Linked DNA regions of Homo sapiens: regions 1 and 2 are each linked to region 3. Evidence: fine-mapped expression QTL. A gene starts in region 3. Each other region holds a variant in brackets. All regions are shown on one strand. Distances are from middle to middle.

Region 1 (8,184 bases), 73 kb before region 3:
CAAAGAATTATGAGAATATTGAGTATGGGAAAATAGCAAAGGGAACTACTGGCTATGCAACTTTGGGCAAAACACTTAACTATTCTGTGTCTTAAAATCCTCATGTGTTAGATAAGTGGTCCCAACCTTTTTGGCACCAGGGACTAGTTTTGTGGAAAACAATTTTTTCATGAACTGCGGCAGAGGGGATGATTTTAGGATGATTCAGGTGCATTACATTTATTGTGCACTTTGCTTCTATTATTACATTGTAATATATAATGAAATAATTATACAACTCACCATAATGTAGATAGAATCAGTGGGAGCCCTGAGCTTGTTTCCTTGCAACTAGATGGTCCCATCTGAGGGTGATGGAAGCCAGTGACAGATCATCAGGCATTAGATTCTCATAAGGAGCATGCAACCTAGGTCCCTTGCATGCACAGTTCACAATAGGGTTCAGGCTCCTATGAGAATCTAATGCTGCTGCTGATCTGACAAGAGGAGGAGCTTAGGTGGTAATGTGAGCAATGGGGAGTGGCTATAAATAGAGATGAAGCTTCACTTGCTCACCCACTGGTTGCCTCCTGCTGTGTGGTCTGGTTTCTAACAGGCCATGAACTAGTACCAGGGGTTGAGGACCCCTGTGTTAGATAATTCAGGAAAAGACAGGGCACAGTCTGCACTGGCATCACTTGTAGGAACAGAGTGACTTTGTGTCCCAGAGTAGCTAGTATAGCTATGATAGAAAGGTAAGAAAAAAATTAGTCAGCAGATGGCCATTTGGATTTTCTTGAGTATGATATTTCAAGATACCTCTAATATGTCAAGAATGTTGATGCACATCCAGAGAGGATTGGGAGCCATTTACTCACCATCTGGATACTGCAGATATACAGACCAAAGAGATGCTAAGTCACAATGCACCAGAGAGGAGTTGCTGTGCCTGCCCATGGCTATTTGTGCAGAAGTATAATACTAGCTAGTTACCTGAACATGGAAAATGTCATTAAGAAGACAGTAGAACTTTTCATCCAACAGTGTCATGACTTTATTTCGAAGGTTGGTCTGTCGTTCTTTATAATGTTTACAAGTGTCTAGGCCTAGGACATTGGCCATGAACATCTGGATGGTATAGAAAGTTTGATGGAAGCTGATCTTATTCAATGAAATGGCAATAATCCTGTTTGTGAGAAAATCAAGAAACAGAAGAGAGTTTTTAAATATATATTTTTGAAAATAATAGAGGTTGAAGGAAAGCTCTGTCTTCTCATATTCAGCTATAATGATGGAGATTTTCCAAGCTATCTCGCAATGGTTCTTTATTGCTGCTTCTGATATACTCCCTCTTCTCCTGTTCCTAAGCCCTGATTAATTTAACCTAGCTAATTCTCTCCTTTCTAGTCCTACTGCCACCCTATACTACCACAATAGCAAGCCACTACCCCCATCCAGGTCATGACCCTCTGACTGGGAGCTCCCATTGCCTAACGGCATGAACCCAGGCCTCCTTTATGTGACACACAAGACTTTCCAAAGCCTCATTCTATCCTTTCTTGCCACTCTCTGCCTAGCAATCTACCCTTCACCAACAGCAAGCAGGTGAGAGTTCCCTGCACACCCAGAGCTATTTCTCCTCTCCATGCCTTTGCTTATGCTGTCTCCTCAGCCCAGAGTGCTATGGCTTCTCATTGCCCCTCATTTGAGGTTCATCTCAAGTCTCAGCTCAGGTGTAGCCTCCTGGAAACTGTCATCAATGTCCTAAGGTTGACTACATACCCTTTCTTCTCTGAACTTCCACAATTCTCTATTGCATGACTCTATCGTTGCCCTCACTATATTCAACTTTTAATGCTATCTGATATGGTTTGGCTCTGTGTCCTCACCCAAATCTCATCCCGTATTGCAACCCCCGAGTGTCAGGGGAGAGACCTGTTGGGAAGTGATTGGATCATGAGGGCGGTTCCCCCCATGCTGTTCTCATGATAGTGAGGGAGTTCTCATGAGATTTGATGGTTTAAAAGTTTGGCACTTCCTCCCTTGCTCGCTCTCTCCTGCCACCATGTAAGACATGCCTTGCTTCCCCTTTGCCTTCTGTCATGATTATAATTTTCCTGAGGCCTCCCTAGCCATGTGGAACTGTGAGTCAATGAAACCTCTTTTCTTTATAAATTACCCAGTCTCAGGTAGTTCTTTATAGCAGCGTGAAAACGACTAACACATTATCTCTCTCCTCCTCTTCTGTGAGAGCTCCTTGAGGGCAGAGAGCAGACTTTATTGATATTCAGGGCTTTGGCACTTGTTGACACATGTCCCCACAATTCATATGTTAAATTCTTAGCCTCTAGGGCCTCAAAGTGTGACCTTATTTGAAAAGAGAGTCGTTGCAGATACAATTAGTTAAGATGAGATCATGCTAGAGTAGGGTAGGCCTCTAATCCAATAAAACTGATGCCCTTATAAAAAGGAGAAATTTGGACACAAACAACACACAGGGAGAATGCCATGTGACATGAAGGCAGAGATTAGGGTGACGCTTCTACAAGCCATCTTTGGAACACCAAAGATGGCCAGCAACCACCAGAAGCTAGCAGGTGGGCATGAAACAGATTCTTCCTCATGGTCCAGAGAAGAAAAGATGCCTTGATCTCAGACTCCTACCCCTGAGAACTATGAGACAAATTTCTGTTGTAAGCCATCCATTTGTAGTACTTTTTTACAGAGGCCCCGGCTAGTGAATACAGCACTTAGTAGTTCCTGAACATAGTAGGAATTCAATTAATGATTGAATACATGAATAAACAAATGTCTTCTGACTGTTGTGAATTATCCCTTCAGCAATGATAAAGATATTTTAAAACTGGCCTTTCTCAGGCCTAACTTTAATGTGGGATAGAGATACAGCTAAGAATATTATAAGATTAACAAGCATTTTCCCCTCACACTGTTTAGGTTAGGTGGGGAAGGGATATGAGTCACCATCATTATTGTCCTGGTCATCACCACTGTTATTGAATACCATACTATCTACTTCCATGAGGAAGTAGAATGGATTGTCCCAAAGATAGCCCTCATAATATTCCTTATATGAAAATAAATAAACAACATGAGACAAGTATATTAGATCTGTCTTCCAGGGAAAAATCCAAAGACCTCTTATTCTCTATCTCCAGTCTTAGGACTAAATGGTTTGAACTAGTGATTCCCTGTTGAGGGAAGAGACAGACCCTCTCATATTGTTTTATACTCAGAAAAGGAAAGAAAAGTGAAATTAAAGGCAGATAGCCCGGCGCCTAGGAACCAGACCCGAAACCAGGCCTGGGCCTGCCTGACCTAAGCTCGGTAGTTAAAATTCGACCCCTGACCTAGCAACTGTTGTTATCTATAGATTCCAGACATTGTATGGAAGGGCATTGTATGGAAGGACATTGTGAAATCTCTCGTTCTGTTCTGTTTCACTGTGACCACCGGTGCTCACAGCCCCTGTCACGTACCCCCTGGCTTACTCAATCGATCACGACCCTCTCATGCGGACCCCCTTAGAGTTGTGAGCCCTTAAAAGGGACAGAAGTTGAGCATCAGACGAGCTCGGATTTTGAGACGCTAGCCTGCCGATTCTCCCAGCTGATTAAAGCCACTCCCTTCACTATCTCGGTGTCTGAGGGGTTTTGTCTGCGGCTCATCCTGCTACATTTCTTGGTTCCCTGACCGGGAAGCAAGGTGATTAACAGATGGTCGAGGCAGCTCCTTAGGCGGCTTTAGCCTGCCCTGTGGAACATCCCTGCTGGGGACTCCAACCAGCCAGAGTGACGCGGATCCTGAGAGCTCTCCTGGGTAGGCATTTGCCCCGGTGGGACACCTCGCCAGAGCAGTGTGTGGCAGGCCCCCGTGGAGGATCAACAGAGTGGCTGAACACCGGGAAGGAATTGGCACTTGGAGTCCGGACAACTAAAACTTGGTAAGACTAGTCTTTGGAACTTGCCCACTCCATTTGAGTGGAAGCATGGCCTGATCACCCACGGCGTGCCTTTATCAGCACTTGGTTTTGGTTTTGACTTGGTTTGAATTACTTGACAGGACTGGTCTTGGGAACTTGCCCACTCCATTCCCACTCCATTTGAGTGGAAGCATGGCCTGATCTGATCACCCACGGTGTGCCTGTTCCGGCACTTTGGTTTTTGTTTTTGACTTGACTTAGATTGCTTGATACTTTGGTTTTGGTTTTGACCTGGCTTGGATTTCTGAATACTCTGATTTTGGTTTTGATTTTGGTTTAGTGTAAACTGCAAAAGTGTGTGCGTGCCCTTTTTACCCGTTCTTTGTTTTGTGGTGTGCATGTGGTGTGAGAGTGGTGTTTTGTCTCGAAGAAACATGGGTCAGGCACAAATAAGCCCACCCTACTAGAAACTATGTTGAAAAATTTCAAGAAAGGATTTAAGGGAGATTACGGTGTTACTATGACACTAGAAAAACTTAGAACTTTGTGTAAAATAGACTGGCCAACATTAGAGGTGGGTTGGCCATCAGAAGGAAGCCTAGACAGGTCCCTTGTTTCAAATGTATGGCACAAGGTAACCTGTAAGCCAAGGCACACAGACCAGTTTCTGTACGTAGACAATTACAGCTGGTTTTAGACCCCCTTCGCCCCCACAGTAGTTAAGAGAGGCAGAAAGAGAGGAAGAAACAGAGGCAAAAGGAAAGTCAAAGAGAGAGAGAGGGAGAGAGAGAGACAGAAAGTCAAAGAGAGAAAGAAAAATAGAGAGAAATATCCAAGTAGTTAAGAAAAAAATAGTGTACCCTATTCCCTTTAAAAGCCAAGGTAAATTTAAAACCTAAAATTGATAATTAAAGGTATTCTCCGTAACCCTGTAACACTCTAATACCACTTTGTTGTTAGTGTAAA[C/T]AAGGGCGTATCCCGAAAGCACTGAGGCCTTCCTATCAAAAATCCTTAACCCAGTAACCCACGGATGGCCCAGATGCATTCAATCTGTAGCAGCAGCTGCTTTGCTAACAGGAAAAAAAAAAAAAAAGAGCTGTGGGAAGGCAAAATTTATGTAAAAAGAGTGTTATATGGTAAATTCTTGTCTTGAAATAAATTAACTGTTGTTTAAAGAAAGAAATATTTGTAATAAGTCAGAAAGTTGAGACATGTCAAAGAATTATCTGCGAAAGTCATAGAAAACGATGTTATAAAAAATTTATGCAAAAAATATTGTATAATTTGAAAGTAATAAGGCCTCCTGAGTACTATTGAAGAAACAGTTTATGTGCAAGGTGCATAAGAAAAGTAAAATATACTTTTGGTAAAAAGATTAGAAGGAGGCATAAGAATGTGGATTTTTACCTACATTAAAAGGTTAAAAAAATTATTGTTTTGAAAGTTTAAGCAAGTTTTAAAATGTTAATTGTAAAAAAAAATTCTGTGTGTAAACTAATTAGCTAAAGATAAAAAGGTATCATCCAGTTTTTCTGTGAACTGGACATTAAAGTAAAAATGCAACAGGTTTTTCTTGAAGCACCAACCTGCTCTTTAACAAAAATTATAAAAGGTTAAAAAGAGTCTGTAAAAACTTACCTTATGGTCAAACATGAAAAATTGGATAAATATGTCTATGAGGTTTTATTAAAATTAAGTTTAACATTAATAACACACTAATATAAAGGTAAAATTTAGCTTATCTGGTATAAAAATCATACAAGAAGTATTATTAAATATAAAATGGTGTTTAGCTTTCTTTGGTCTAAAAACTAATAAAAATAGGTCCTAAAGGAAACATTCATTTTACTAGAGGATCATAGAAGTTAAAGACTTAAAACAAACTTTGGCAATTAAGACAGCATACCAAGATGCAAATGCCTGGTTGAAATGGATCAAATATTCCATCTGCACATTAAACAAAAGCAGTTGTTATGCTTGTGCACATGGCAGGCCAGAGGCCCTCATTGTCCCCCTTCCACTAAAGTGGTCCTCCAGTCCACCAGGCGTGGGCTGCATGGTAGCTCTTTTCCAGGATTCTACAGCCTGGAGTAATAAGTCATGCCAAACTCTCTCTGCTATCCCTGTGGGTCAGCCCCCGAGGGCCATCCAGCCTCCGTCTCCCAACACTAAGTTCACTTCATGTCTCTCACCACAGAGAGGAAACTTAGGATTCCTTGGAGACCTGAAGTGATGCAATGAGCTTAAGAATTTTCAAGAGCTTATCAATCAGTCAGCCCTTGTTCATCCCCAAGCGGATGTGTGGTGGTATTGTGGTGGACCTTTACTGGGCACTCTGCCGAATAACTGGAGTGGCACTTATACTTTAGTCCAGTTGGCTATCCCTTTCACCCTGGCATTTCATCAACAAGAGGGAGGAAAAATAAGACATCGTAAAGCGAGAGAAGCCCCCTTATAGGTCTTTCGACTCTCACGTCCATTTAGACGCAATTGGAGTCCCACGAGGAATACCAGATCAATTTAAAGCTTGAAATCAAATAGCTACAAAATTTAAGTCAATATTTTAGTGAGTGATGTTAATAAAAATGTAAATTAGATAAATTATATCTATTACAAACAACAGCAACAAGCTTTTCATGAGTTGAAAGAAAAACTCAGGTCGGCCCCAGCCCTGGGGCTACCTGACCTGACGAAAGTGCACACTCTATGTGCCAAAAAAAAAAAAAAAAAAAAAGGGCCATCTATACCAATTCTAAGTTAATTTAGACTAAACAAGGTCTTACTCATAGCAAAGGATAATTGAAATCCCAAACTTACAAGGTTTTCAACAAAAGTAAAGTTTGCTAAAAGTTAACAGTGTAACATGTATTATAGTAACTTCTAATCTTGTGGCCTTAGACAGTCTAGTCCACAGATATAAAGAAAGTTCACTTAAAAAAAAAAAAAAAAGAATGGTTATCTTCAAAAAAAAAAAATGGCAGTTGGAGTTTTAACCCAGACTGTAGGGCTCTGGCCAAGGCCAGTGGCCTATCTCTCAAAACAACTAGATGGGGTTTCCAAAGGCTGGCCCCCATATCTAAGGGCCCTGGCAGCAACGGCCCTGTTAGCACAAGAAGCAGATAAGCTAACTCTTAGGCAAAACCTAAACATAAAGTCCCCCCCATGCTGTGGTGACTTTAATCAGTACCAAAGGACATCATTAGCTAATGAATGCTAGACTAACTAGATACCAAAGCTTGCTCTGTGAAAATCCCCACATAACCATTGAAGTTTGCAACACCCTAAACCCCGCCACCTTGCTCCTGGTATCAGAGAGCCCAGTTAAACATAACTGTGTAGAAGTGTTGGACTCAGTTTATTCTAGTGGGCCCAACCTCCAAAACCATCCTTAAACATCAGTAAACTGGGAGCTGTACGTGGATGGGAGCAGCTTCACCAACCTCTGCAAAGTGACTCAGAAAAAGCCCTGCTCCAGTCACACCCGGAAGCTGACTGGTCCACGCACGGCCGAAGCATGAGAAAACTCATCACGGGACTCATTTTCCTTAAAATTTGGACTTGTACAGTAAGGACTTCAACTGACCTTCCTCAGACTGAGAACTGTTCCCAGTATATACATCAAGTCACTGAGGTAGGACAAAAGATTGCTACAGTCCTATTATTTCATGGTTATTATAAGTGTACGAGGACTCTAAAAGAAACTTGTTTGTATAATGCTATTCTATCCAAGGTATGTAGCCTAGGAAATAACCAACCTGATGTGTGTTATGACCCATTTTAAGCCTCCAATGATCACAGTTTTTTAAAATAAATTAAGGACTGGTCCTTTTCTAGGTGACACAAGTAAAGTAATAGCTAAGACAGAAGAAAGAGGGATCCCCAAGCATGTAACACTAAAATTTAATGCTTGTGCCACTATCAATAGCAATCGGCATAGAATAAGATGCGGTTCTTTAAACTGAAAAAAAAAAAAGTTACACAGCAGGAAATAAGTATATCTGCCACGAATTAAGCTCATGTGCAAATGTGTGTAATTACTGGTCTTGTGTCATCTAGGCTACTTAGAAAAAGGATGAAAAAGACCCTGTTTAGCTCCAAAAAGGAGAAGGCAGCCCCTCCTGTACGAGTGGAAGCTGCAACCCCTTGAAATTAGTAATTACAAATCCCTTAAACCCAAGGTAGAAAAAAAGAAGTACACGTATCTCTGGGCGTCGATAAAAAAGGACTAGATCCTAGAGTAAATACCTTAGTAAAAGAGGAGGTTC
Region 2 (8,184 bases), 140 kb before region 3:
TAAAGGAGAGGAGTTTCTTTCCTTCTAAGTAGGCAGAAATGGTATCATTATGTTGCCGCTCTCCAATCTCCCAGAGCTCGCTCTCTAGAGAATCACCTTCTTTCGCTTTTTTTTTTTTTTTTGAGGTAGAGTCTCACTATGTTGCCCAGACTAGCCTTGAACTCTTGGGCTCAAGTGATTCTCCCTCCTCAGCCTCCCGAGTAGCTGGAACGAACTATAGTTGCACCACTGCAGCTGGCAAGAATCACCTTCTTTATAAAGCGTCAGTCATGCTTCCAGCAAGAGGCAGCATCAGTCATGGCTTTATAACAGCTTCATGGTGCCTCAAAGACTGTTGAGGTTAATGAGAGCCTAGATTAGACAGTTTGGCTGTCCTTCCCTAAAACTTGTTTTCTCCTATTCACTACTCCCCACCGCACTTAAAATCTATGAGTTTTTACTTTTTACTGGGAATGGAAAGTGTGGTGAAGATCATTCAACACTTATGTTGTCATTTCTCCCATTTTCTGAATTTTTTTTTAAATTTCCCCCCTTTTAAAATTGTTCGAAAGCCCACAGTTATGGAAAGAATTACTGTCTAGATGGTCTGCAGAACGTGTTTGGGGTGAGTGGGAGTGAGGGGCAATGTTACTTTTTCTCCCTGTAGTTTGGAGTCCATTATGAGCTGCTGCTTTTTCTTCTCATCTTGTCATCTTCTGGGGATGTTTGAAGGCTGAGTTCCAACAGAATTCACAAAGGGAATAAAACAGGATTGAGATTTTGAGGTGTGCACAAGGTGGTAAGATAAAGGGCATATGAGCTTCAAAACTAATGCTGTTGCATACATGAAGCCTTTTGTTTTTTGAGGAGCTATTTTTGTTATTCTTGTAACGCTCCACCTTACATGCCACATCTGTGTGAGTCAACAGGGATCAGGTTTGGTCACCACACATGTCTGAAGCTGGGCAGCGTCTGCTCTGTGTTCTGTGTGGAATGGAGAAAAAAACGCCTGCCCTGCTGCCTTCCATGTTCATAGGCCCAGCCCAAGAGAGTGACACACAGTGCTGGCCCTGAGACATTTCCACAAAGTGGTCAACTCTGCCTTGCATCCTAAAACTTTTTGGGCATCTATTTTGAAAACTATAGGAGCCTTTGGAAGGCCTCTTATGTTTGGAGGGGAAGGGTGTTGAGATTGTCACCATCCTTCAAGCTGAGACTCCTGGTGAGCCTTTGCCACCATGAAAACCACATAGCTGACCAGGGCTGTGCTTGAGGTACAGAGGACACACATTGTAGACAGGCCTGTGTCATGTTTCCTTACAGTCGTTTTTTACAGAGAAAAGGGGCATTGTTTTTTCACTGCTTTCTCAACAGTTCCTGTGAATAAATGAAACATTTCGGAGCTCCCTGAGAGCAAGAGCCTTCACTTCTTCTTGCGGTGCCGGGACCATGTGTTGGTGAAGCTGGTGCTGTGGGGGCCACTCACTCGAATGACACCTGGAGGCCTGTTCCTCCCTTACCACTCCCTTCCCCAGCCCGACTTCTTGGCCTCCTGCCCAACCAGACACCTCAAACTCTGTCAGTGCCCTGGCATTCTGGCAGAGAATCCTCACCAGTTCTCACCAACCTTCCCCCCAGGCAAGGGCAGCTGCCAGCATGGTGCTCTGCCAGGACAGGTTTCCCTGAAGGAAGCTGCTCACACTGAGATGAGCCTCTCAGGGCAGGACCTCTTCCCAAGCCCTGCACACCCACCCCTGCAGCCCTTTTGGCTCCCCTTTTCCCTGTGCCTCAGCACTCCTTTCCTGGTTGCAGATAACGAACTAAGGTTGCCTAAAGGGCAGATCTGCCCTCTCCATGTCTTCGTCCTGGCAAACAGGGTCGTCTTAAAATTATGCGCTAATTCTGTATGGGAGCACTCAAAAGGCATTACTTAGAGATTGAAATTTCAAACTATCTCTAGTTTTTCAATGGAAATATATCAGCTAGGGAAAAACCATCAAGCTCATTATTATTTTTTGATCTTCAGTTGTATTTTTGTGAATATTTTAATACATCTTTTTCAATTTCTGAATTGTGTTGTGTGCTCATTTTGACCAGAATAGAAAAAGAGATATGCCTTTCACTCATATCATTCCAGCTACACCTGCCTTCTTTTCTTCAAAAATGCCGTCCGTGTGCCTGCTTCTGGGCCTTTGCACATGCTGTTCCCTGGGCCTGAAGCATGCCTTCTGCCAATATTCCTGTGGTTTGCTCTCTGACTTCCTTTAAGCCTCTGCTCAAATGTTACCTCCTCAGGGAGACCTTCTGTGATATATAAAAGAGCAAGCCCCCCACCCCACCGCCTCAGCCTTCCTGGCCCCCTCAGTTCTGCTCTAGTTACTCTATTTCTCTCCCTCTTTCCCAGTACACACTTGTCTGTTCTCCCGCATTAGAACATAGTTAACAAGAGACCAGAACCTTGCTGTTTTGTTCACTGCTCCGTCTGCAGTAAAGGGAACAGCACCTGGCACTTAGCTGCTCAATACATGTTACGTGGATGGATGAGTAGGTGGAAGCATTCATCCATTCAGCAACCTACACTGAGAACAATCCTGTGCCAAGCACTGTGCTAAGCATAAGGAAACAAAACAAGACAAAGCTCCTCAAGGAGCTTGCCACAGGGTGGAGGTGACAGGTGACATGAATGGAAGTAACTAGTAGTTACCAAATACTTGGTGTGAGCCAGGCACTTTGCATTTCTTTCTCTATTATTTCTGTGAGTTAACAGTAATTGTACTAATCTTAATCCCATTGTTTGAAAGATTATATGGCTTACCCAGGGCCACTTAGCTAATAAAGGAACAGAGAAGAGGGGCTGGGCCTGGGGCCGCTGTTTGATCCACAGCCTTGTTCCTAACCACTATGCCCTGTGGCCTCTCACACCAAAAGGAAGTACCAAACTGCTTCCTTACTCAAATAAATGTGCTGAAATGCAGTTGCAGTTTTCTCCCAGTCCCTTAGGAGCTGGTTAGAGAGTCCCTTAGGAACTTGAGAGGGTAGTGTAGTCTAGGTGGTAGGCACAGATGTCTGAGAGCTTTAACCTCAGTCTGGAAGACAATGTGGTGACTTAATTTGTTGAGAACTATGTTACAAATAATGTGTTACTAATAAAACATTGAGGCTTCGCAGTGACTTAGTAATTTTATAAATTACCATGGATTCACAATGAGCCCCTGCCTTGCATAACTTTGGGCTTGCAAAACCTAATGCGTTCTTGAGTGGGAGAAGATGAGTTACAGCTGGCAGGAACTCCCCTGGGAGTAATTCTCACATGTGAACAGCATCCATCTTGCGTGATGTGACAAAAAGAAAAGGGATGCTTCCTTCACCACACAAGGGCAGCAGTGAGTGATGGAATCACATTTTTGTCATCTCTGCAATTCCTTCCAAGTCAGCACTAAGTGTCGGAGGGCATCCACCT[G/C]CTGGGGCTCTGGTTTCCAAGCTACATAGGGGCCTTGCCAACCAAAGATGGACTTTTTATTTATGAGAGCAGCTTCCACCCCTGAGGGAGCTGAGTTGAGCAGTGTTTAGAGGAAACTCAGATACTCTCTCACCCCAGTTGGCTCCCTTCTGACCCCTCTGGGTAGTTCCTGTGCTAACTGGACTGGGGAACCACTGACTTCATCCTCCCACTGTGCAGGAAAGGCGAGGGAGCAGCCACGGGGAGGAAAGTGGCATCTGTGGTATTGGTAGAGCTGGTGGTAGGAGCCAACCATCTGCTTTTATGGCGGGTTCTCCCCTGCACTTTCCTCTTGCATAGTCAAGATATTGTATGAACAATTTCAATATATTTTGTTTTTTTGTAGAATTACTTTAATGAAATTACCCTTTGATATAATTTGAAAAAAATTTTTTTTTGAGACAGTCTTGCTCTGTCATCCAGGCTGGAGTGCAGTGGCATGATCTTGCCTCACTGCAACCTCCACCTCCTAGGTTCCAGCGATTCTCCCACCTCAGCCTCCCCAGTAGCTGGCATTACAGGCACGCGCCACCACACCCGGCTAATTTTTTGTATTTTTAGTAGAGATGCCCGCCTCAGTCTCCCAAAATGCTGGGATTACCGGTGTGAGCCACTAGGCCCAGCCCCTTTGACATAATTCTATCAGCCTACATTGAAGTATGTCATAAAAAAGAGTCCTAGGAAACTAGCTACTTATTGTACTTTACTGCCAGCATGGCTTTGAGAACGTTATTCCCTGTCATACATTTTTCAATGTTATAAAGACCCACAGCACAAATATCTCTCTGGATTTAATACCAGATGATATGGTTGAGATCTGTGTCGCAGCCTAAATCTGTCGAATTGTGATACCCAGCATTGGAGGTGAGGCCTGGTGGGAGGTGATTGGATCACAGTGGGTAGATTTCTAATGAATGGTTTAGCACCGTCCTCCTTGGTACTGTTCTCGTGATTGTGAGTTCTCATGGGACCTGTTTGTTTAAAAGTATGCAGCACCCTCCCACTCTGCTCTCTCGCTCCTCCTCCCGCCACGTGAGACGCCTCATGAGAAGCCTCACTACCCCTTTGCCTTCCGCCATATTTGGAAGCTTTCTGGGGCCTCACCAGAAGCCAAAGACGCTATGCTTCCTGTGTAACCTGCAGAACGGTGAGCCAATTAAACCTCTTTTCTTCATAAATTACCCAGTCTTGGGGTTTTGTTTTTGTTTGTTTTTTGTTTGTTTGTTTGTTTTTTGAGATGGAGTCTCACTCTGTCGCCCAGGCTGGAGTGTAGTAGCACGATCTCGGCTCACTGCAACCTCCACCTCCTGGGTTCAAGCGATTCCCCTGCCTCAGCCTCCTGGGTAGCTGGGATTACAGGCATGCGCCACCATTCCCGGCTAATTTTTTTTTGTATTGTAGCGGAGATAGGGTTTCACCATGTTGGCCAGGCTGGTCTCGAACTCCTGACCTCAGGTGATCTGCCCGCCTTGGCCTCCCAAAGTGCTGGGATTACAGGCGTGAGCCACCACACCTGGCCTTCAGTCCCAGGTATCTTTTATAGCAGCGTGAAAACAAGTAATACACCAGGAAAACTGTTTCTTATGAATATTTTGTTTCAAACTAGTCATGTGCACTGACTTGTCACTGATTGTATTTGTCTCTTTGCTTTTGCTATTCTCTAGGTCCTAGCCAAATTTGTGGGTCACTTTCTACCACTGTACACAGATTGTACACTCCATATACACTTTGTACATTAACTTTACTCATAGCTTTATGTGTATCTTGGATTATGTTCAGCTCTATGATCTGTCTCAGTTTTTTCCAGTGATACAATAATAGATGTGTCCTGATTTAGATAGAGAAAGTAGGTAGGCAGAGATTCTGGCCATGGCATCAGAGATTCATAATGCCAACCACAGACTTACTCTTGACTCCACAAAAACCATTTCACAAATTCCTATTGTTGCCCAAAAGAGGTGAAAATAAAAGTATATGACTGGCTGAGTGTAACAAAACTACATGACAGGAATTACGACTCACATACAGCCTGGAGTCACCTTTCTGTTACACCCTGTTCATCAGTGATGGAAAGGCAGCTTCCTATGTGCTGAAAGTTCATCTCTCTTATTGCAGGTATGATTTCCACTGGTATTAATGAGCTTGAAATATGAAGGCCACTTAAATTTCCCAGAGGTGTCAAGTGATGTGGGGATTTCAGAGCATGTATCAACTCACTTCAGCAATATTAGCATTTTTGTTTGAAATACCCAGTTAGACAGGAAACTTGAAAGATAATTGTTTCAATTATTTGTATCATCATACTGAAAATTGCTTAAAACGTTCTGGTTGTTCCTTGAAGACATTAAAAGAATAGATCCTATTAATGCCCCATAGGTTATTTGATCCTTTTGGAAATGAAAAGATTGACTGATGATTGATTGAATTTTCTGCTTTTTATTAAATTGGTGAGATGGCAAAAAAAGAAAAATGTAAACATATACAAAAGAAGAGAGAATAGTAAAATCAACCTGCATACACTTATTATCTTCAATACTTATTTTATCCAGCCCCTTTTTTCTTTTTTCCTCTTTTCTGAATTATTTTAAAACAAATCCCAAAATCATGTAAGTGCACCCCTACATTCTTCACTGTGCATCTTTTAAAAATGTGGACATTTTCTTACATAATCACAATATCTTGTCACATTTAACAAAAACCTGTCCTAAAACACATTTTTTACAAACAAAATCCTTGGTTTTATATATTATTACCCAGTTAATATTCAAGTTTCCCTTGTCTTAAAAAATGGCATTTTACAAGTGGTTTCTTCCAGTCAGGATCCAAACATAGTTCTGGTAAAGTTTTTTTTTTTTTTTTTTTTTTGCCTATTTTTAAACCCAAAATGGGATCATGGTGCTCTGCAGTTTGCTTTCTTCCCTTAGCATTATGGCAGAGAAGTTTCAGCATGAAGAACTAGGTCATTAGATAATAGCACCTGCAGGACTTTGTCTTTTGTAGATGCGCCGGAATATTTTAAACCATTTCTTTTTTTCTTTCTATTTTAAACAGAGTTTCACTCTTGTTGCCCAGGCTGGAGTGCAATGGCGTGATCTCAGCTCACCACAACCTCCACCTCCCAAGTTCAAGCGATTCTCCTGCCTCAGCCTCCCAAGCTGGGATTACAGGCATGCGTCACCATGCCCTGCTAATTTGGTATTTTTAGTAGAGACAGGGTTTCTCCATGTTGGTCAGGCTGGTCTCAAACTCCCAACTTAAGGTGATCCGCCCACCTCGGTCTCCCAAAGTGCTGGGATTACAGGCATAAGCCACCGCAGCCAGCCTTTGCATTTTAAACCATTTCTGATCTTCTGGATAGGTTGTTTCCAGTTGTTTTGTTATTGGCTATTACAAGTAGTGCTGTAATTGTCATTTGCCTTCATGAGCTATTAAGGAAGAAAAGCCAAATAATTTGCAGGCTCAGAGAAGCAACACAGAATCAGTCACGTCCTTGGCCTTGGAAATGGGATCTAATATCTGAGAGCGATGAAAGTGGCTCACAAGCTCCCCTGCCCTCCTCACATCCTTCCTAAAGCCATCAGGAGCTGGCCACAGAGCACACTGGCTGCTCTCAAGTTTGACTGAGTCTTGGGTTGTTAGAAAAACAACTGGGAGTGGAAGGCAGGAGGGAGCTCTAGAATCCACGGGAGACCTGGCTGTGTTTGCAAAGAAGAAAACATAGACGTAAAGCCCAAAGGGGTCCGTAGGGAACTGCTGCTTCCAGCTTCCATTTCCTCCTGCAAACAGGATGTGAAGCTATTGTCCCTTCTTGGCTCAGGCTTTTGGATTTGTTTGTCCATCCATTTCTTCACTGTGGCCTTTGTGGAGCTGGCCTTTAGTGTTGCAGAATATAAGGAAGGGCTGGGTTTGTTTGTTTGTTTGTCTTTTAAAATCTCCCTACCTCTGTGAAGAGGATGTGGTGCAGATTTGCTTTCAAGCCTTGCCCTCCGTGCTGTGGGGCTGACAAAATTCTGGTTACTTTGCCCTTCAGGGCATTAAATGATTTCAGGTATTTATACCTGAGTCACTGCTCTGCTATGGGAGCGGGGGATAGAACAGCTAAAAACCATCTTAAGGCCTGAGGTTTCTCATTCTGTGATAAGGACTCCAAGGAAACTGAATTTCAATACTAGAGTACATTGTTGGTTCTTTCTCTGCCTTTGAATAGAATTATTTTTTAAATTACAAAGTTTCTTTTAAAAGAAAGAACTTTTAAATATATTTTGTAGGGAATCTCTTAGAAGGTACAATAGATTCATAGGAATGTGGAACATTTGGCCGGGTGCAGTGGCTCATGCCTGTAATCCCAACAATTTGGGAGGCCGAGGCAGGCGGATCACTTGAGGTCAGGAGTTAAAGACCAGCCTGGTCAACATGGTGAAACCCCATCTCTACTAAAAATACAAAAAATTAGCCGGGGGCGGTGGCATGCTCCTGTAGTCCCAGCTACTCGGGAGGCTGAGCGGGGAGAAGGGGAGAATCACTTGAACCCAGGAGGTGGAGGTTGCAGTGAGCTGAGATCGTGCCATTGTACTCCAGCCTGGGCAACAAGCGAGACTCCGTCTCAAAAAAAAAAAAAAAAAAAAAAAAAAGAATGTGGAACATTTTACAAAATCTCGTCCATGATCTTGCCGGCCCAGCAGAATCCCAGATGTTTGTCTATAACG
Region 3 (8,184 bases):
GACTGACATCCTTTTTTGTGAGTTGAGGAACTTGACCAGGACACACATTTGGCTAGAACTCTATTCCTTCTCTACAGTGGCAGATCATGACATGCCAGCAAAAACACATAGGCAAATGGATAATGAGAGCCTCAAAATTCTGGCTCACAGGTCAGAGATGCAATACTGTAACTAAAATATGTATCTATACATAAAAACACATTAGTTTTTTTTTTTTTTTTTGAGACAGAACCTCGCTCTGTTGCCAGGCTGGAGTGCAATGGCACGATCTTGGCTAACTGCAACCTCCACCTCCTGGTTTCAAGTGATTCTCCCGCCTCAGCCTCCCAAGTAGCTGAGATTACTGGCACCCGCCACTACACCCGGCTAATTTTTGTATTTTAGTAGAGATAGGGTTTCATCATGTTGGTCAGGCTGGTCTCAAACTCCTGACCTCAGGTGATCCACCCACCTCAGCCTCCCAAAGTGCTGGGATTACAGGTGTGAGCCACCGTGCCTGGCTAAAAACACATTCTTGTTACCTGTCGAGACATACAGTGTCAGTGATAAAATTAAATCTCAAAAATCTAGAATCAGCAATGTATGATTTCCAACTGTTAATATTGTAGCATTTCATATCATTTAATAAACTCCTTGTAGGTGAATCTAGAAAAATGTTTCAATGACAATTCAATAACAAATACTGTTAGGCAAAATAGTATGCAAAATCCTTGAATATTCACTCTGGATAAACTCTTAAGACAATAATCAGTGTTTCCTTAGATTTTATTCAATACTCATCAGTCAACGTATTTTTCAAGCTCCTCCATTTCTACACTGGTGTGCCTCCAACTTGTCGATCATAAATAATTCTGCTGTAATAGATATCCTTACTCTGTATGTTGCTCAAATTTTAGAACTGACAGTTATTGAGAGTCTAAGTGCAAACGCTGTGCTACATGTTTTAGAGACATTAGATCATCTGATTTTCACAACAATCCTGAAATGATTACAATTACTCCCATTTTATAGATGAGATAACTAAGGCAGGAATTTAGGGTCAAGGTCACACAGCCAAGACTGAAACGTAGGTCTATTTCCCTTCAAAGCCTAGCTCCTTTTACTACACTGAAAAAGGGGGTTAAAATAACTGAACGAATCCAAGGATTTTCAGGTGAAATGCACATCCTGCAAGTGAAAGGTAATCCCTCTTCATTCTGAAAGCTGAGTAGTATTTTAAGCAGTAATTACAGGTGGCTAAAAACTAAAGGCTTGGAAAGGATCAAGGTAAGACTACCCTCCAATTTTGTATTATTTTAAGTAGTTTAAAATTACTCTTACTCTGTCATGCCCTTATCCTACAGCTAAAACACAAAGCTTATGAAGGTCAGGGTTGACTTCACATTCAGTTGACTCTGTAAAGCCCAGATTATTACAAAAAGCATAGCTCAACCCTCCTTCCCGAAAATCTTTGCCACAAAACACAGCATAATTCCAAAAAAATTGAATGTTAAAAGAACTAAAAGGCAAATAAACAAAAACTTTTTAAATCAGTAACAAACTGTCCTTAATGATCAGTTTTATAATGGGTTCAATGTTGCAGTAAATAATATTAAGGGTTAGAGTATAATCCAGATGTTCAATTCATTCCATTATCAAACTGGAAATCAGATTTAGTAACCAGTTCAGACTCCAGAGAGCTGGTTCATAATCAGATAATGGGGGAACTAGACAACTTTCCTAATGATACCAACTACAGAATACAGATTTTAACTATGTAGGAGAATAAAAGCCACTTTTCGGGTAGCACTTCAGTCTTTCAATTTACAACACATTTTCTAGTTTGCCAAGTCTTAGGCTTGAAACAGACCTCAGAATATATCTGATGTTAGCCCCTAGCAAATAAGTATTATTACAACTCACTTTATAGAAGAGGTAACAGAATTCTAGATCTTTAATAAAGGGATTGGAATCTTTCAGTTTCTTACAGTTTTTTTTTTCAACCACAAGAACACAGTTTTCCAGTAGGCAAAGAGAGATGTAACGTTTACTGAGCATTTACAAAGAGTCAAGCACATATGTTATCTGTCATTCTCATAGACCGCGTATTACACAAACAGAGATCTAGGCTTTTGCTCAAGGTCACAACTATAAGTGGTAGAAGAGAATGATATCCAGGTCTGTCCACACAAAAAGCTCTGGGTAGAGCTTGTTCAACAATTTCATAAATAAGGATAGACTTAAAAAAACACACTGGACCTATGGGATGAGAAATGACACTGACTCAAGCCTGGATGAAGTAAAGCATGCAGTTTGGGGGAGGGCTCAGTCTGCAGGCCTCTGCCAGCAGCAGCTGAAGAAAGTGACCTTTACTCCAAACCCTACAGTGCGACAAACCACCCATCCAGCTCTGCCTAGAGTGGGTTAATATGCCACAATTCGAAAAGAGAAAGAGAATGAGTGTTTCATGGTGGCCCCAGACAGTTTGGTGGCCGCAGAAGTTGAGAAGGCTCAAATCTGGAGATCAGGTTTGGGTTGGAGTCGTGCGTAAGGGAGCGGATGTCACATAGGTGGGGAAGGGAGCTGACTTGAGATACGTTGGCTTAGGAAGAGATGTTGCAGGAGAGAGGGTGAAATGCACAGGCTAGGAGAGTAGACGGCTTCACTTGAAGGGAAGGGATTGGGGCTGTGGATGCCTCTAGAGGCAGTTGTCAGAGGGCCTCTAAAAGGTCCATTTTAGAGGAAGCGAGAAGGAAGGTCTCGATAAGGAGCCATTCAGGGTCCATTACCTGCTGGATGGTTGTACAACGGCCTCAATTTCTCGGGCAGCATCAGCTCCACTTTATCGAGGAGCCGGTGGTAGGTGGCCCGCAGGCCTCGGGCACCGGCGGCCGACATCGCCGCCGAGGGATCGTTGGCAGCCGGGTGGGAGCGTGGCTGTGTTCTCGTCCCTGGCTGACAACGAAGGGGAGCTAGTCACTTTTCCTGCCACGACGACTCGCGTCCGCCTCTCGCCTGGAGTACCCTTCCCGCGGCTTTCCCTGCCCGCTGTGAACCGAAAAGCTGCGGCCCGCGCCCCGCGAAGGTTGAGGGGGCGGAGGCTGCCGACTGCCAGCCCCCGGTCCGCCTCCGGCCCCCGGCAGGAGAGAGGGAGGAGCCATGGCAACAGGTGCCAAAATAATCACCTCACCAAGTCTGCGCTGCGCCCTGCTGGCAGCGCGCTTGCGCAGGCCGAGCTGCCCGCCATGATTGGCCCGCCCCGAGGCGCGGGCGGGGTCGAGCGGAAACCTCCTCCTTCTCCCCATGCCCTCGAGGCCATGTTGGAGAAGGGAAAGTGAAGCTGCGCTGGTTCTACTGCCCTTTCACTTTGATTAAGCAGGCCCGTAGTTAAAATGGGTTTTTGGGCCTTCAGTGCCTAAAGATGATGCCGCACAATTCTCTTGCTTCTTTTCACTGGAGACTCGTGAGCGAGAGACTACAGAATTGAGTAGCTTCTCTCTCTACTCGTCTTTTATCCCTAGCGACTTAAGGATCTGGTTAGAGTGGCCCGAATGCATTCTTCCAGGGTGAGGGCAGCCGCAGCACACACCAGCCTCAGTCCCCAGGGTGGTCGTCATCTCGCGAGAAAGGGTTGGCGGGGAGGGTATCCAGGACGAGGAGAGGGAGGAGTCGCCATCGCCTCCGCCTCCGCCTCCTCCTGTTGGAGGGGGGCTGAGGGAGGAGACTGTTGCTGATCTTTGGATGTTCTGGTTAGTCTAAGAAGGAGAGTATGAGGCGAGCTCCGGCCCGGGTGCGGCCGGGCTTCAGGGGCCCAGGCGCCGCTGCTGCCACCGCCATCTAACGCTGCGCCCTGGAGGCCCGGCGCGCGGATGGTGCCGGTGCGGCTCGGGTGTTGAAACGGGTGTCCCCTCCCCCTCCTCCCCTCCCCCACGCGGTGGTCTCCCCTCCCACCCGGCTCAGGCAGAGCCATGTCTCGGGGTGGCTCCTACCCACACCTGTTGTGGGACGTGAGGAAAAGGTCCCTCGGGCTGGAGGACCCGTCCCGGCTGCGGAGTCGCTACCTGGGTGAGCGGGGGCCCCGGGGCGGAGGCGCTGAGGTCGCCGCCTAGAGTGGGGGAGGGGGCACGCTGCCGGGTCTGTTGGAGGTGGGACGGCGTCTCGGTGGGGGCGCCCGGAGACTCTGGGGTGTTGGGTGGGGCCTTGGTTGCCGAATTCCGTGCCGGTGCCTCCCCCAGTCAAGCCCCCTGTGCATGCTGCCAGCCGCCGCCCTTGCTGGGTTTTTCTCGGAGGGCCGGGCCGTGGGCAGAAGGTACTGGCTTGTAAAGGTGTTGGGGTCGCTGATGGGTTGGGACTCGGGAGACTTGCGGAACCTCCAGGAGCTGCCGCGTTTAGAGCAAAAGTTAGCTCTTTTGCTCTTTTCCAGCGCGCTTTCCCCGCTCAGCCGAAGAACCTAAGTTGTTGCCCACCCTCTCCTTCAATCTCCAGAGGGTTTAGGTGTCGGCTGCGACGCGTTGACCACCCTCAGGGACTTCACGCTCCAGACAGAATCCGTGTAAACTGTTTTTGCGGCGCTGAGCCAAAACCTAAAAGTGATAGCTGAGCTCTCCCCACCCCCGCGCGCTCTCCCAGTTCCACTCTGCTCTTCAGTTCGTTTTGACCGCTTAAAGGTGGTGTAGGGTTTCACGTTCCTCTTCCCACCCCTGGAAAACACACTTGGCATTTACAGTTTCGTAGTTAAGCTTTCTAAAAACAACCTTCAGTACTTGGGGGAACAGTATTCCACTTTTTTCGTTTTGCATAACATTTTTTTTTTGAGGATTCTAGGTCACGCCCGAGTCAACTAAAAAGTTTGGTTTCTTAAAAATGGACGTACTTAGTAAAGGTCTTTTTTGTTTCTTCCTGTATACTCTTCATTACTCTTTCTTTCTATTTGGAGATACGGCAAACAACATCATAAAATTTTTTTCTTTCCAGTTTTGCCACTTGCTAGTTAAAAAGTGTTTGTTGCTCTCATTTGTTTTTGATTTCAAGTAAAGAGAAGAAAATGAAATCTCATTACAACCAACAGTTCTGGTTTGTAAATTATTTAAGAAAAGTTAGCATGCAATTTTTTAATTCTTTTTAGTGTCTCAAGTAAAATACGAATACATTTTGTTTATAAAAACTCAATAAAAATGAAGCAAAAATCCCTTTGATCCCTCCCATTCAATTTCACTCCGCCACCCTTAGAAATAATATTTTCTGTTTTCTGAATATTCTTCCAGACCTTTTTGTTTGCATTCTTACAAGTACATATGTACATGTACAAATGCTGGGGTGTGTGTGTGTTTGTGTGTGTATGAGAGAGACACCTGAGTGCATGGTGTCATATTGTAAACATTGTTTTCACTTCTCCACATTTTGGAGATCTTTCCATGGCAGTAAAAATAGATTGATTCTGTCTTTTAAATTATTACATAGTAGGTAACATTATGAAGTACCATAGGGTACTCAACCTTTCTTCTTTAAGTAGACGTTCGCCCTTACAGCATTTTAATGAACATCATTCTACAAGCTTCTGTGCATTTGTTGTAGGATAAGTACCTAGAGTGGTGATTAATCATTTTAAAATTGAACATAGCTGGAGTCTGGTTTTTAAAACTATTTACCAAAAAAAGTGTGCAGTATTTCTTTTAGAATTTATTTGCGGAGAAAGAACTTAATTTTAGCTTAATAAAACAAACGTTAACATTGTTTTGCATGGATACATTTATAATTTGGTCCTTTATCTCAGTTGGACAGTTTAAGTACTTGTATATAGTTCTATATTTTAGTGTTTTCTTTTGGTTCAGTTACTTCAGCTATATCTACAAACGAGTTAATTAAAATATAACAAAACCATATACCTGCTTTTCCCCCTCCTACTCCAACTCCCTAATGGAAATGGAATTTGTGTATTGGGTCTAGGGGAATTGAAGGGTTCACTGACTATATTAGAAAGCCTGAATTACAGTTTTTCAAATGTGTATGTATACATACAGGGAGTTCTTTATCTTAAATAATATTTTAGATATGATAATATATACTCTTAAAATAGGACATTTTTGGAATGACTTCCTTTAAAAGTGGTTTTCTAAGTACTTGAAAATACTTTTTGAAAGTATCGAAACTTGAAAATGTTTGCAAAGAACTAATTTATTGGCCTTTACCCTTAGTAGACCTTTACACTGTTATTCAGCTCTTCTATACTACAGTGCTAATCCTGGCTTTGCATTCAGGAAGCAGCAAAATCCACATTGGTAATGTTTGAATTAGTGATGGTTTTTTTTAAAAAATGACTTTCCCTCCCAGTTTTATTGGGGTATAATTGACAATTAAAAATTGTTATATTTAAGGTGTAGGACTTGATAACTTCATATACAATCAAGTTAATTAACATATCCATCATGTCACATAATTACCATCTTTTTTTGTGTGTGGCGATAAAATGACTTTATCATTATTATTAATTTTATTTTTATTATTAGATAAAATGACTTTTTAAAGTACAGTACTCTTGGCCGGGCGCGGTGGCTTACGCCTGGAATCCCAGCACTTTGGGAGGCCAAGGTGGGTGATCACTTGAGGTCAGGAGTTTGAGACCGGCCTGGCCAACATGGTGAAACCCTGGTCTTTACTAAAAATACAAAAATTAGCCGGGAGTGGTGGCGTACGCCTGTAGTCTCAGCTCCTTGGGAGGCTGAGGCAGGAGAATAGCTTGAACTTGGGAAGTGGAGGTTGCAGTGAGCCAAGATTGTGCCACTGCACTCCAGCCTGGGCGACAGAGGGAAACTCTGCGTCATAAATAAATAAATAAATAAATAAAGTATGGTACACTTATAAAGCCTTCCTTTTAAAAGTCAAATTCCAAGTTAGGATTTTCCTAAGGAAATAGATTCCTTTTTTAAAAGACTTCAATATTTAAACATTACGATTGTCTATCTACAGGGTTGTAGATTTAAGTATTTTTCTGATACATTTTCATTATTTGTATTTCTACAGATTTTTTAGCAGTGAATTACTGCTAAATAGTAAAATTGGGATAGAACAAATAGATAAATTTTTCTTGTAGCCTTTACATTTCCAGTTATTTCACCATAGCATGTGCCCTTTCAATGTTAATATTCAAGCTTTGTAATTGATTTTACTTAAACTGATTAATTATCTCCTTTCTTCCCATCAAAGAAAATTATACTTCAGAAAACTTCCTATTATGTTGTGGGAATGAAGATGAATAATTTCCCAGATGTTATTTATGATTAAAAGATATGTTTACTTAGAGCTCCCAAATCCACAAGATTCACCTGGGCCAACAGAGTGTTGTTTTAGACTAGCATGGATTTAGAGGATAGGCCAGGGATTTTAATCTTTGTGAGCCCTATCTAAATTTCAATGTAGGATTCTTTTTTTTGGTGGGAGGCGGGGGGCAGGGTGAGGCAGGGTTTTGCTCTGTCTCCCAGGCTGGTGTGCAGTGGCACCCTCATGGCTCACTGCAGCCTCCACGTCCTGGGCTCAAGGCCATCCTCCCACCTCAGCCTCCTGGAATTTTTTTTTTTTTTAAAGAATAATTATCAAAGTCAGAGATACCTGTAGGTTTAAATGTTTAAATGTAATAGTTTCTCAAATTACTGTATACTAGGTGTAGAGTAGTGCTTTTGGAAATCAGTGATTTATTAGCCACACAGATTTTATTATCCCATATATATACGGTTTTGTAAAGATAAACATTGTTAATAAAATAAACTTATTTCAATACATTGCTTGTTTCTACTCATATTTCTTTCCTTTTGGACAGACACTCCTACAACTTTCTAACCCTTCTAAATTAAAAGATAGTAATTGATAAAAAAGTAATTTTAAGGTACTTCTCAAGGGAGTTATTTATTATAATGTATAAAATGTGTAAATTATGATTAGGCAGCCAGTGACAATTTTTTAGTGGAGATTGAATCTCATCTTTTTGTAAGGAGTTTATGAAGTCAGTGTCCTTTGAATATCATTAGAGTCAGTATGTACTGAAATGGATAATTTTGCGTGTCGATTACTCTTTAGTGCATCTTGAATACATCTGCATTCTAGATTACCAGGTTCTTCATAATATGTTGCCAAGTTACAGTGTATTTATTATATGAAGATTAGTAACTTCTGACTTTTGCCTCTTTTTTTAGCCATTGGGGAAAAGTTAGT

Alleles and levels. Alleles are on the strand shown, and positions count from the first base shown. SD is a standard deviation of normalised expression in the study named. Not every link is listed here.
In carriers of allele C in region 2, the expression in fibroblasts of the gene that starts at base 3,719 in region 3 tends to be higher than with G alone (small effect, 0.22 SD a copy in GTEx).

The links. PIP is the estimated chance that this variant, and not a neighbour inherited with it, causes the effect.
Region 1: its variant is fine-mapped to the expression of DCAF6 in whole blood (TOPMed, PIP above 0.99).
Region 2: its variant is fine-mapped to the expression of DCAF6 in fibroblasts (GTEx, PIP above 0.99).

The regions. Positions count from the first base shown.
Region 1 is chr1:167,859,899-167,868,082 of GRCh38, forward strand. ADCY10 (adenylate cyclase 10) reads right to left here. Exons shown (of 33, transcript NM_018417.6): 15 at 973-1,165. It also overlaps a transcript of DCAF6 not described here. Among named protein-coding and RNA genes, the nearest start is that of ADCY10, 50 kb to the right of the region's middle. RefSeq lists enhancers at 1,443-1,959, 1,960-2,477. The variant C/T (reference allele first, on the strand shown) is at 4,886.
Region 2 is chr1:167,788,774-167,796,957 of GRCh38, forward strand. It overlaps MPZL1 (myelin protein zero like 1), which reads left to right. Exons shown (of 6, transcript NM_003953.6): 6 at 1-3,146. Among named protein-coding and RNA genes, the nearest start is that of MPZL1, 71 kb to the left of the region's middle. RefSeq lists a silencer at 3,810-3,958. The variant G/C (reference allele first, on the strand shown) is at 3,440.
Region 3 is chr1:167,932,965-167,941,148 of GRCh38, forward strand. It overlaps DCAF6 (DDB1 and CUL4 associated factor 6), which reads left to right and starts at 3,719. Exons shown (of 22, transcript NM_001198956.2): 1 at 3,719-4,044. The coding sequence starts at 3,948. It overlaps MPC2 (mitochondrial pyruvate carrier 2), which reads right to left and starts at 4,108. Exons shown (of 6, transcript NM_001143674.4): 1 at 3,975-4,108; 2 at 2,769-2,934. The coding sequence starts at 2,877. RefSeq lists enhancers at 2,735-2,844, 3,295-3,604 and silencers at 3,015-3,184, 3,785-3,854, 3,885-4,124.